2 separate regions of the Homo sapiens genome follow, and region 2 is linked to region 1. Evidence: fine-mapped QTL for protein levels in blood plasma. A gene starts in region 1. The other region holds a variant in brackets. All regions are shown on one strand. Distances are from middle to middle.

Region 1 (5,374 bases):
ACAGGCATACACTACCACGCCCAGCTAATTTTTTGTATTTTAGTAGAGATGGGGTTTCACCATGTCGCCCAGGGTGGTCTCAAACTCCTGAGCTCAGGTGATCTGCCTGCCTCGGCCTCCCAAAGTGCTGAGATTATAGGCATGCGCCACCACGCCCAGCTGAAAAAATTTTAAAAATGATTTACCCAAGGCTGACTCGCCAGTGACGGGCACAGGTGCCTGGTGCATGGCAGCAGGTGTTCAATACAAGTTTGTGGCTGAAACAAATAGAATTAAAAAGGCACAAGTGGACTTAGGGTATGGAGGATGTCACGGGTTTGTCACATGTCCGCTTTCTCACTGGACGTCCCATCAAAATCGCTCAGCCCTGTGTCTGTCCCTCCCCTCTCCCAGTGACATCCAGTTCATTTGATAGATGAGCCCTGTGGCTCTGTCCTCATGCATTCGTTCAGCCATGTAGAGCCCTTGCTCCCATGTTCAGTGCAGGCCAGCCAGTATCCCAGGGGAGCCCACGTAGGGCCAGCCAGCATAGCCATCAACCCCATTTTCTTCCACTGGAAACCAACCCTTTATTTTGTTTACTCTGTCTCAGTTATTTTTCTGCCTTAACATTCTTTTCCTGGACGACGGTAAAGTCCATGAGGGATGTAAACATGAAAGTCTTTCTTTTCTTTTCTTTCTTTTTTTTTTTTTTAGATGGAGTTTCGCTCTTGTTGACCAGGCTGGAGTGCAATGGTGCGATCTCAGCTCACCGCAACCTCCACCTCCCGGGTTCAAGCAATTCTCATGTTTCAGCCTCCTGAATAGCTGGGATTACTGGTGCCCACCACCACGCCCAGCTAATTGTTGTATTTTCAGTAGAGACAAGGTTTCACCATGTTGGCCAGGCTGGTCTTAAACTCCTGACCTCAGGTGATCCACCTACTTTGGCCTCCCAAACTGCTGGGATTACAGGCATGAGCCACTGCACCCGGCCTTTTTTTATTTTTTTGAGACAAAGTCTCGCTCTGTCACCCAGGCCGGAGTGCAGTTGCGCAATCTCGGCTCACTGCAACCTCTGCCTCCTGGGTCCAAGCGATTCTCCTGCCTCAGCCTCTTGAGTAACTGGGATTACAGGTTCATGCCACCACGCCTGGGTAATTTTTGTATTTTTAGTAGAGATGGGGTTTTGCCATATTGGCCAAGCTGGTCTAGAACTCCTGGCCTCAACTGATCCACCTACCTCAGCCTCCCAAAGTGCTGAGATTACAGGCATGAGCCACTGCGCCCGACTGAAAGTCTTTCTTTTTTTAAATAGACATGGGGGTCTCGCTATGTTGCCCAGGCTTATCTCCAACCCCTGGCCTCAAGTGAGCCTCCTGCCTCGGCCTCCCAAAGGGCTGGGATTTCAGGCTTGAGCCACTTTGCCTAGCTAACATAAAAGTCTTGTAAGAGGGGAGCTTCAGGTAGGTATGGGCTGGGTTCTAGGTCTAGTGATGGTTCCCATTAGACAAACATTAAACGATGCCAGAAGGCTGACAGCAAAGAGTTGATGGTTCCTAACAAAGGCAACATTAGGAACACATCTCCAAGGGGACTGAGCTCTAATGGCCATGTTGGTGCTGATTTCATTAGTGGTCCCATTTCTGGGAACCCATTTCCTCCCCTACATGGAGTATGATGTGTGTCTTCCTAGAGATGCAGGATTAGCTGTGGAGCTTTTCAGATACCTGCCCTTCTCCCCCTCCGCTGTGGAAGGTGATTGAATTTGGCCTTGCTGTTTTTAAATTTTTTTTTTTTTTTTTTTTTTGAGATGGAGTCTCGCTCTGTTACCCAGGCTGTAGTGCAGTGGTGCAATCTCGGCTCACTGCAAGATCTGCCTCCCGGGTTCACGCCATTCTCCTGCCTCAGCCTCTCTGAGTAGCTGGGACTACAGGTGCCCGCCACCACGCCCGGCTAATTTTTTTTGTATTTTTAGTAGAGACGAGATTTCACCGTGGTCTCGATCTCCTGACCTCATGATCCGCCCACCTCTGCCTCCCAAAGTGCTGGGATTACAAGCGTGAGCCACCGTGCCCGGCCGCTGTTTTTAACTTTTAAATTTTTATTTTATTTTATTTTATATGTATTTTTTTTTTGGGACTGAGTCTTGCTCTGTCACCCCAGCTGGAGTATAGTGGCGCGGTCTCGGCTCACTGCAACCTCTGCCTCCCGGGTTCAAGTGATTCTCCTGCCTCAGCCTCCTGAGTAGCTGGGATTACAGACGCCCGCCACCATGCCCGGCTAATTTGTTTATTTTTATTTTTAATAGAGACAGGGTTTCACCGTGTTGGCCAGGCTGGTCTCGAACTCCTAACCTCAGGTGATCTGCCTGCCTCGGCCTCCCAAAGTGCAGGGGTTCCAGGCATGAGCCACCGCGGGAAGGCAATTGACTTTAAAGGGCTCTGGGACCCGCGGCCCCAGGAGTTTGTGTTTGGCTTGGCAGTGAGCATCAGCTGGAAGCAGTGCATCAGGTAAGGTGTTCTCTGGTCGCTGTCAGCATGACCCACACGTCTGTGTGTCACCCTGATGGGTATTCCAGTCATTATGAGCCCTTCTTGACTGACATTTAGATCAAAACTCCCCCATTGATCCTCTCTTCCTCCTTGCCCCCACCCATGCTTCAACCCTGAGGACCGGGGCCCTAACGTCCCTGGAGCAGGTGCCAGGACCTCCTTGACACAGGCCTTGGTCACTGGAACCCTGACTGTTAGGATGAGCCTTCCCAGCAGCAGATCCCCAGACACGGACATTGGAAAGGCCACTCCAAGACCGTCCCACCCAGGGCCCTAACTACAAGCTCTGCTTCTGGAGACATTTGCCAGGTGCCAAAAACATCTCCGTTGCTCCATCTAGGAGCAGCCAATGGAAAGGGCAGCCCAGCCCCCTCCTCCTCTCCCCCAGTGGTATCCCAGCCTCCTGCCTCTCTCTTCCCTCCCCCGCCTTCCTTCCTCTCGCCTGGGCTGCCTGCCTCAGAAGTGGGGACCCAAAGGGTGCAGGACGCCTGGTCTGCCTTGTGGGTCCTGGACGGAGCCCCTACCTCTGCAAAGATGACTTGGAGACAGGCCGTCCTGCTGTCTTGCTTCTCCGCCGTGGTGCTCCTGTCTAGTGAGTACAGGAGGGTCAAGGTGGAGGGTGTTAGTTACATGGTAAGGGAGACTTACCATGCACAGGTAAGGCTGCTCAGGTGATGCAGGTAGAAAGGAGTATGCTTATTGTTAACATGTGTGTATGTGTGTGTCGTGTGCATGTAGGACACAATGCAATACAGAAAAATAATAATAATAATAAAAAACAGTAAAGAAAGAAACAAAATAGAAAAAAAACCCAAGCCAGCTTGCTTGGTGGGTTCCTGGGGAGATTGGCTCTGCAGCTGGTACGTGAGAAACCACGGGCCCCCTGCCAGGCCCTGGCAGGACGCTTAGCCTGGAAAGAGAGATGGGGACTCAGCTCAGGGTCTGGGCTCCCCTCTGATGCTGCAGCCTCACTCTGTGCCCTTGTCCTGCAGTGCTGAGAGAGGGAACCAGTGTATCTGTGGGCACCATGCAGATGGCGGGAGAAGAGGCGAGTGAAGGTGAGTGCAGGGGCCACCCACGGGGCAGGGCAGGTGCAGCCAGCGAAGCAGCAGCCCCAGCACCCCCACACTGCTGGTGACAGGCCTCTCCCGGGTTTCAGATGCAAAACAGAAGATTTTCATGCAGGAATCAGATGCCTCGAATTTCCTCAAGAGGCGCGGCAAGCGGTCCCCCAAGTCCAGAGATGAGGTCAATGGTAAGGATGCTGGAGGGACCCCATCCCGCGTCCATCACCACCTCTGCTCACACCCCCCGGCTCCTCCTCTCCCACAGTCAGCCGGGCAGCAGGATGCAGCTGGGCACGAAGGGCTCACCCCAGGGTATCAAAGGGACTGCAGCTCTGAATGAGAAATTACACCCTATTTCCTGACTGTAGGTCGTATATTGGATTGAATACTTTGTCAGGGTTAGGAGGCCCCACCTCTGCAAAGATGACTTGGAGACAGGTCCTCTTGTCCTGCTTCTTGGCCATGATGCTACATTAAACACACCTAACAGGGATAAGATGCATTGGATTTCAGAAAGGTGTAGGGAGGGAAATCTATATTCTGGTCTGGAGGCGACCCACACATCAGTGTGTGCTTTGCGGGTACTGGTCCAGCACACCTTCTGTATAAGAGCAACAGCATCGCACATGGGGAAGGCACAGGACACTGGGTGCTGAGAAATGTGGGTCTGGGGACAGCTGTGCTGCTAAGTGGCCTTGGCTACTTCCTCCCTCTGGTCCTAATTTCCTTATTTATAAGCCTCTGAAAGAGCTGTGTTCAGCCAGCAGAGGTTTTTTTTTTTTTAAGTTTTCATTTTCAACACATTGGGGTGAGCCTGTCTGTTGCACAGCCTGCTGTAGGGCCTGTGGAGCCCCGGCTTCAGGGTCCTCATGCCCTTCACCTGCCAACCCCTGAGGGCATTTGAGTTTCTACTCCTGAACCTGCTTCTTCCAAGATGCTGAGCTCAGACAGTATCTCCCGAGTCTCTGGCTTGAGTCTTTCCTCCTCGTGCCTGTGGGTGAATGAACTCTTTGTATTCTTCAGGGCACTCAGCAAGGTGACTTGCTTGGTAAAAATAACAGGACTGTTTTCAAATGATGGGAAGAACAGAGATAGAAATGCTTGGAGATGAAATTTCTTTTTTTAAAAAAAATTGAATAAGTATAACCGTGCTAGGAAAACCTCCAGGCCTCATACAACTGGAGATTTAAAAGTTGGCCAATGTCAAGAAGCACTGAAAGGTTGGGAGGGGGGCTGGACTGTTTTTGATTAAAATGGGAGAAGCAATCTTCTGGCAGACTTCCAGGGGAAACAGGCATGATTTTAGGCCAGGCAAATAGCTTCTGTCCTCTTTTTTTTTTTTTTTTTTTTTTTTGAGATGGAGTCTCACTCTGTCGCCCAGGCTGGAGTGCAGTGGCAGGATCTTGGCTCATTGCAACCTCCACCTCCCAGGTTCAGGTAATACTCCTGCTTCAGCCTCCCAAGTAGCTGGAATTACAGATGCCTGCCACCACGCCTGCTAATTTTTGTATTTTTGTAGAGACAGAATTTTGCCATGATGGCCAGGCTGGTTTCGAACTCCTGAACTCAGGTGACCCCCCTGCCTCGGCCTCTTAGAGTGCTGAGATTACAGGCATGAGCCACCGCGCATGGCCTCTTCTGTCCTCTTAAGCTGACTCCAAACAATGAGCTACACCATTTAGCCTGAAGTGCCTTACCTCGGACAGAAGCTCAGTGTGTCAATTAGTCATGGGAGGTGCAGGACAGCCTGGTGAACACCCAGGATTGTGCATG
Region 2 (5,374 bases), 29 kb before region 1:
TGTGTATTTAACCACAATTTTTTTTTTTAAAGAGCATAAGATTTTTAAAAGGATGACGGGAACTCTAAGCCCAAGGAAAAAAGGTCTCTGGTTTTCCCGTTAGTCCTAAAATTCACAGAAGGGGAATCTTTCCTGTTTGTTTTGTTTGTGCCTTGTGTGAGCACCTCATAAAGTCTTTTTTTGAGACGGAGTTTCACTCTTGTCGCCCAGGCTGGAGTGCAACGGCACGATCTCGGCTCACCACAACCTCCGCCTCCCGGGTTCACGCCATTCTCCTGCCTCAGCCTCCCGAGCAGCTGGGACTACAGGCACCCACCGCTACGCCCCGCTAATTTTTTGTATTTTTAGTAGAGACGGGGTTTCACCGTGTTAGCCAGGATGGTCTCAATCTCTTGAACTCATGATCCGCCCGCCTCGGCCTCCCAAAGTGCTGGAATTACAGGCGTGAGCCTCTGCAACCGGCCACACTCTTCATTTCTTGCTTCTTCCTGGACACAGTTCAACATTGATCCTGGGGGGTTTTGTGACTTGACCCTGGGGGTATGGTCACTGGAGCTGCAGCTAACCCCCCAGGAAACACAGCTTTCTCTCCACCACGTGATTTGCAGAATCTCTTCCTGGTCTGAAACCTGCATTTCCTGGTCTGCAGTCTTTTCCTAGACCAATGACAGAGCCAATTAAAAAAAAAAAAAAAAGGACCAAACCCCACACTCAGTCCCTAGCTCTCCTTGGAGAGTCCCTCGAATGCTCCCCGCAGCCAGGCCTCAGGAGAAACCCCGGCTGCTCTATGTACCTTCCTATACAAGTCACTGAACATCTCTAGACCTTAGCTTCTTCATTTATAAAATAGGGCTGCATGGAGTGCTTTGCAAAGTAAATAAGAGTATTGGATATTTTTCTCTTTTGTTCTTATCATTTGTGGAGAAACCCATTCAGACTTCACTTGGTAAAAAAGATCTTAAAATTGGGTCTAGAGCTGGGCACAGTGGCTCACACCTGGAATCCCAGAACTTTGGGAGGCTGAGGCAGGAGGATCGCTTGGCCTCAGGAGTTCAAAACCAGCCTGGATAACATAGTGAGACCCATCTCTACAAAAGACAATACAACTATCTGGACATAGTGGTGTGCACCTGTGGTCCCAGCTACACAGGAGGCTGAAGCAGGAAGATCACTTGAGCCCAGGAGGTTGAGACTGCAGTGAGGATGATCACACCAGTGCACTCCAGCCTGGGCTGGAGACCCTGTCTCAAAAAATAAGGATGTATTTATCAATGAATATGACAAAACTCACCCCCAAATCAGTCACGACTATGCCTCGGATGTTGCTGGAAACTGGCAGGAGGGGGAGAGCTCCAGACCACCCATAATCTTGTGTTGATTCCTCGTTACCCCGATGGGCTCCTGTGTCTTCCTCCAAAACAAGAAAAAGACAAAATCACACATGTTATCTTCCATCATCCTGTGGCCTGGAGGATCTCAGGTAATTCCTATACACTGCCTATTTTACAAGAGTGAATGTATAAAACAAATGTTTTTTTAAAAAAACACCTGGGCTGAGCACAGTGGCTTACGCTGTAATCCCAGAGCTTTGGGAGGCTGAGGTGGGAAGATCTGCTTGAGGCTAGGAGATCGAGACCAGCCTGGGCAATATGGTGAGACACTGTCTCTACAAAAAATTTAAAAATTAGCCGGGTGTGGTGGCATGCATTTGTAGCCCCAGCTACTTGGGAGGCTGAGGCAGGAGGATTGCTTGAGCCCAGGAGGTTGAGGCTGCAGTGAGTCGTGACTGCACCACAGCACTCTACCCTGGATGACAAAGTGAGACCCTGTCTCTAACAAACAAACAAACAAACAAACCAAAAAACCCTGGGTTTCATACATAATAGGTGATGATCTGCTTATTATTAGGACAGTCTGCCTCATTCCTTTCTGGTTACTAAAAAGAGGTGTGGAAAACATGGGCAGGTTGAGTAGGAATGAAAATAATTAAAGGGTTAGAAGCTAGGGCTTCAAAAATGACAAATATGGCTTTAGGAAAAGATCTTAAGCGGACCAAAATTTCGACTGATCAGAAAAGTTTACATGTGTTCCTTCTGCACTTCTGATCCAGTCCTCAGAATTTCACTCCCAACAGTCTCACAGATGCCTCCAGTCACTGGAACAAACCCCCTTTTCATACCTCCTTGCACAGGAGACTTGCCTCACACAAGCCCACATTCACCCACTGGGTCGCTCTTGTACCATGACACAGACACCCTTTCATGCGTTCCCTCAACAGAGAGACCCAGACGCCGGCCAACACATGTGTGCACACACTCACACCACACACCTCGCACCGGCACTCCAGCCCTTGTCCCCTCACAGTTGCCTGGCCACCCTTCCCACTTCTCCCAGCTTTCAACCAAGCCCTCCACGTCAATACCCTTTAGTAAATATTTACTGAGTGACCATGATGTTCCAGGCACTATCACAACCCCTGGGAGAAACAGAACTGA[G/A]TAAGATATAGTCTTTGCTCCCAAGGAGCTCAGAGTCTACTGGAGAAGCGGGCAGCAGAGGGAGAGCAATCTCCTACAAATCTATGTGCATGGAGTAAGGCTGAACCTAGAAGTGGGGTCATGTACAAGGAAAAGTGAGGGCAAAAGGGAGAGAATGGGGTGGGGCACACAAGGAAGAGAAGGTCACTTCTACCAGGAGAGGTGAAAGGAGAGAGGCATTGAGGAGAAGAGGGTGCTCAGTCATAATCTGGAAGAATTAGAAAGTCTTTGTCCAATAGGCAAGGGAGTAGAGGGCTGCTCACCAGAGAGAGAATGTCAAGAAAGGGTAAATCCACACAGCATGGCAAGAGTGTGTTAGTTCAGAGCACAGAGGGTGAGACAGCGGGAGAGACAACTGGAGAGGTCAACAGGGATGGATGATGAACATCCTTTTACACCACACATAGTAAATTGGAGTTTATTCAATGTTCAATGGTAGGCCGGGTGCAGTGGCTCACACCTGTAATCCCAGCACCTTGGGAGGTCAAGGCGGGTGGATCACCTGAGGTCAGGAGTTTGAGAACAGCCTGGCCAACATGGTGAAACCCTGTCTCTACTAAAAATAAAAAAAATAGCCAGGCATGGTGGTGCACATCTGTAATCCCAGCTACTGGGGAGGCCAAGGCAGGAGAATCGCTTGAACCCAGAAGGTGGAGGTTGCAGTGTGCTGAGATCACACCACTGCACTTCAGCCTGGGCAACAGAGCAAGACTCCTTTTCAAAAAAAGAAAAAAAACATGTTCAATGGTAAATAACTCAGGATGCTTTTGGTGGTAACAGAAAAAGTCAACTCTACAGGCTTAACCAATAAAGAAAATGCATTACCTCATAAAACTGGAAGCCCAGAGTAGGGCACATTCTGTCCTCATCAGATCAATCATTCTTCTCATGATCACAAAATGACTGCAGTGGCCCCAGGCATTGCATCTCTACACACCGTCCAGAGGCAAAATAGAATTCTATCCTTTCTTTGTGTCTCCTTTTAAGGACTAGGGATCCTTTTCTTGTGCTCTTTTTAAAAGTTAAGAATCCTTTTCCAGAATCTTCTGCACTACTGTAGTCTTCCTCCCTGCCTCAAGTTTGTAAACCCCTTCCTAAGTCAATGATTAGCAACGGATTGCCTTGACTGGCTTAACCAATCAAGATCAATGAGGAGATGGGTCCAGGTGTCTCTGAAGCACGTGGATGGCGGAGAACTGGACAGAATCTCAGCTCTGTTGACAAAGAAGGGGGTGGTAGGGTGCTGTGCATCATTGGGGGATTGTAGGTGGTATTGTCATATGATCAAATTTGCATTGTGGAAAGATGGTTTTGGCCAGGCGTGGTGCCTCTTGCCTGTAATCCCAGCACTTTGGGAGGCTGAGGCAGGTGGATCATGAGCTCAGGAGTTTGAGACCAGCCTGACCAACATGGTGAAACCCCATCTCTACTAAAAATACAAAAAAAAATAGCCGGGCGTGATGGTGCATGCTAATCCCAGCTACTCAGGAGGCTGAGGCAGGAGAATCGCTTGAACCTGGGAGGCAGAGGTTGCAGTGAGCCGAGATCACACCATTGCACTCCAGCCTGGGTGACAGATTGAGACTCCATTTTTTTTTTTTTTTTTTTTCTGAGATGGAGTTTTAACTCTTGTTGCCCAGGCTGGAGTGCAATGGCGCGACCTTGGCTCATAGCAATCTCTGCCTCCCAGGTTCATACGATTCTCCTGCCTCAGCCTCCCAAGTAGCTGGGATTACAAGCATGTACCACTACGCCCAGCTAATTTTGTATTTTTAGTAGAGACAGGGTTTCACCATGTTGGTCAGGCTGGTCTCGAACTCCTGACCTCAGGTTATCTACCCACTTCTGCCGCCCAAAGTGCTGGGATTACAGGCGTGAGCCACAGTGCCTGGCTGCATTGTGGAAAGATGAATATGACAATAGCTTGTAGAATGATGACAGAGAAGAATGAGACGCAACACAGGAAAACTGCTGTAGCAGGGGTGGAGATGAATGATAGCCTCAATCAGTCACATGCATTCAGGGAAGCAGCGACAAAAGTGATCTTTTAAAAAAAAATTGAGATAAGGTCTTGCTCTGACACCCAGGCTGGAGTGCAGTGGCTCAATCACAGCTCATCACAGCCTCAACCTCCTGGGCTCAAGTGATCCTCCCACATCAGCCTCCTGAGTAGCTAGGACCACAGGCATGCATCACCATGCCTGGTTAATTGTTTTTTATTTTTTGTAGAGATGAGTTTTTGCCATGTTGCCCAGGCTGGTCTCAAACTCCTGGGCTCAAGCAATCCTCCCGTCTCAGCCTCCCAAAGTGCTGGGATTTACAGACATGAGCCACTGTGCCTGGTCAAGAAAGGAAATTCTGACACATGCTACAACATGATAATTCTTGAGAACATTGTGCTAAGCAAACTAAACCAGACACAAAAGGACAATTACTGTGTGATTCCAATTATATGAGGTCCCTATAATAGTCAAATTAATGGGGACAGAGAATAGAATGGTGATGGAGAAATGGGGAGTTAGTGTTTAATGTGTGCAGAGTTTCAGTTTTGCAAGAAGAAAGAGTTCTGGAGATGGATGGTGGTGGTGGTTGCCCAACACAATGTGAATATACTGAAAACCACCCAATTGTCCACTTGAAAATGGCTAAGGCCAGGCGCCATGGCTCACGCCTGTAATCCCAGTGTGTCCGGAATTGGTGGGTTCTTGGTCTCACTGACTTCAGAATGAAGCCGCGGACCCTCGCGGTGAGTGTTACAGCTCTTAAGGTGGCGCGTCTGGAGTTGTTCCTTCCTCCCGGTGGGCTTGTGGTCTTGCTGGGCTCAGGAGTGAAGCTGCAGA

The links. PIP is the posterior inclusion probability: the model's chance that the variant is causal. Sun 2018 read protein levels with aptamers (SomaScan).
Region 2: its variant is fine-mapped to the plasma level of the UCMA protein (Sun 2018, PIP 0.95).

Annotation. Positions count from the first base shown.
Region 1 is chr10:13,231,953-13,237,326 of GRCh38, reverse strand. UCMA (upper zone of growth plate and cartilage matrix associated) reads left to right here and starts at 2,953. Exons shown (of 5, transcript NM_145314.3): 1 at 2,953-3,126; 2 at 3,527-3,592; 3 at 3,694-3,789. The coding sequence starts at 3,069. RefSeq lists an enhancer at 2,340-3,250.
Region 2 is chr10:13,260,682-13,266,055 of GRCh38, reverse strand. No RefSeq gene overlaps it. Among named protein-coding and RNA genes, the nearest start is that of UCMA, 29 kb to the right of the region's middle. The variant G/A (reference allele first, on the strand shown) is at 2,496.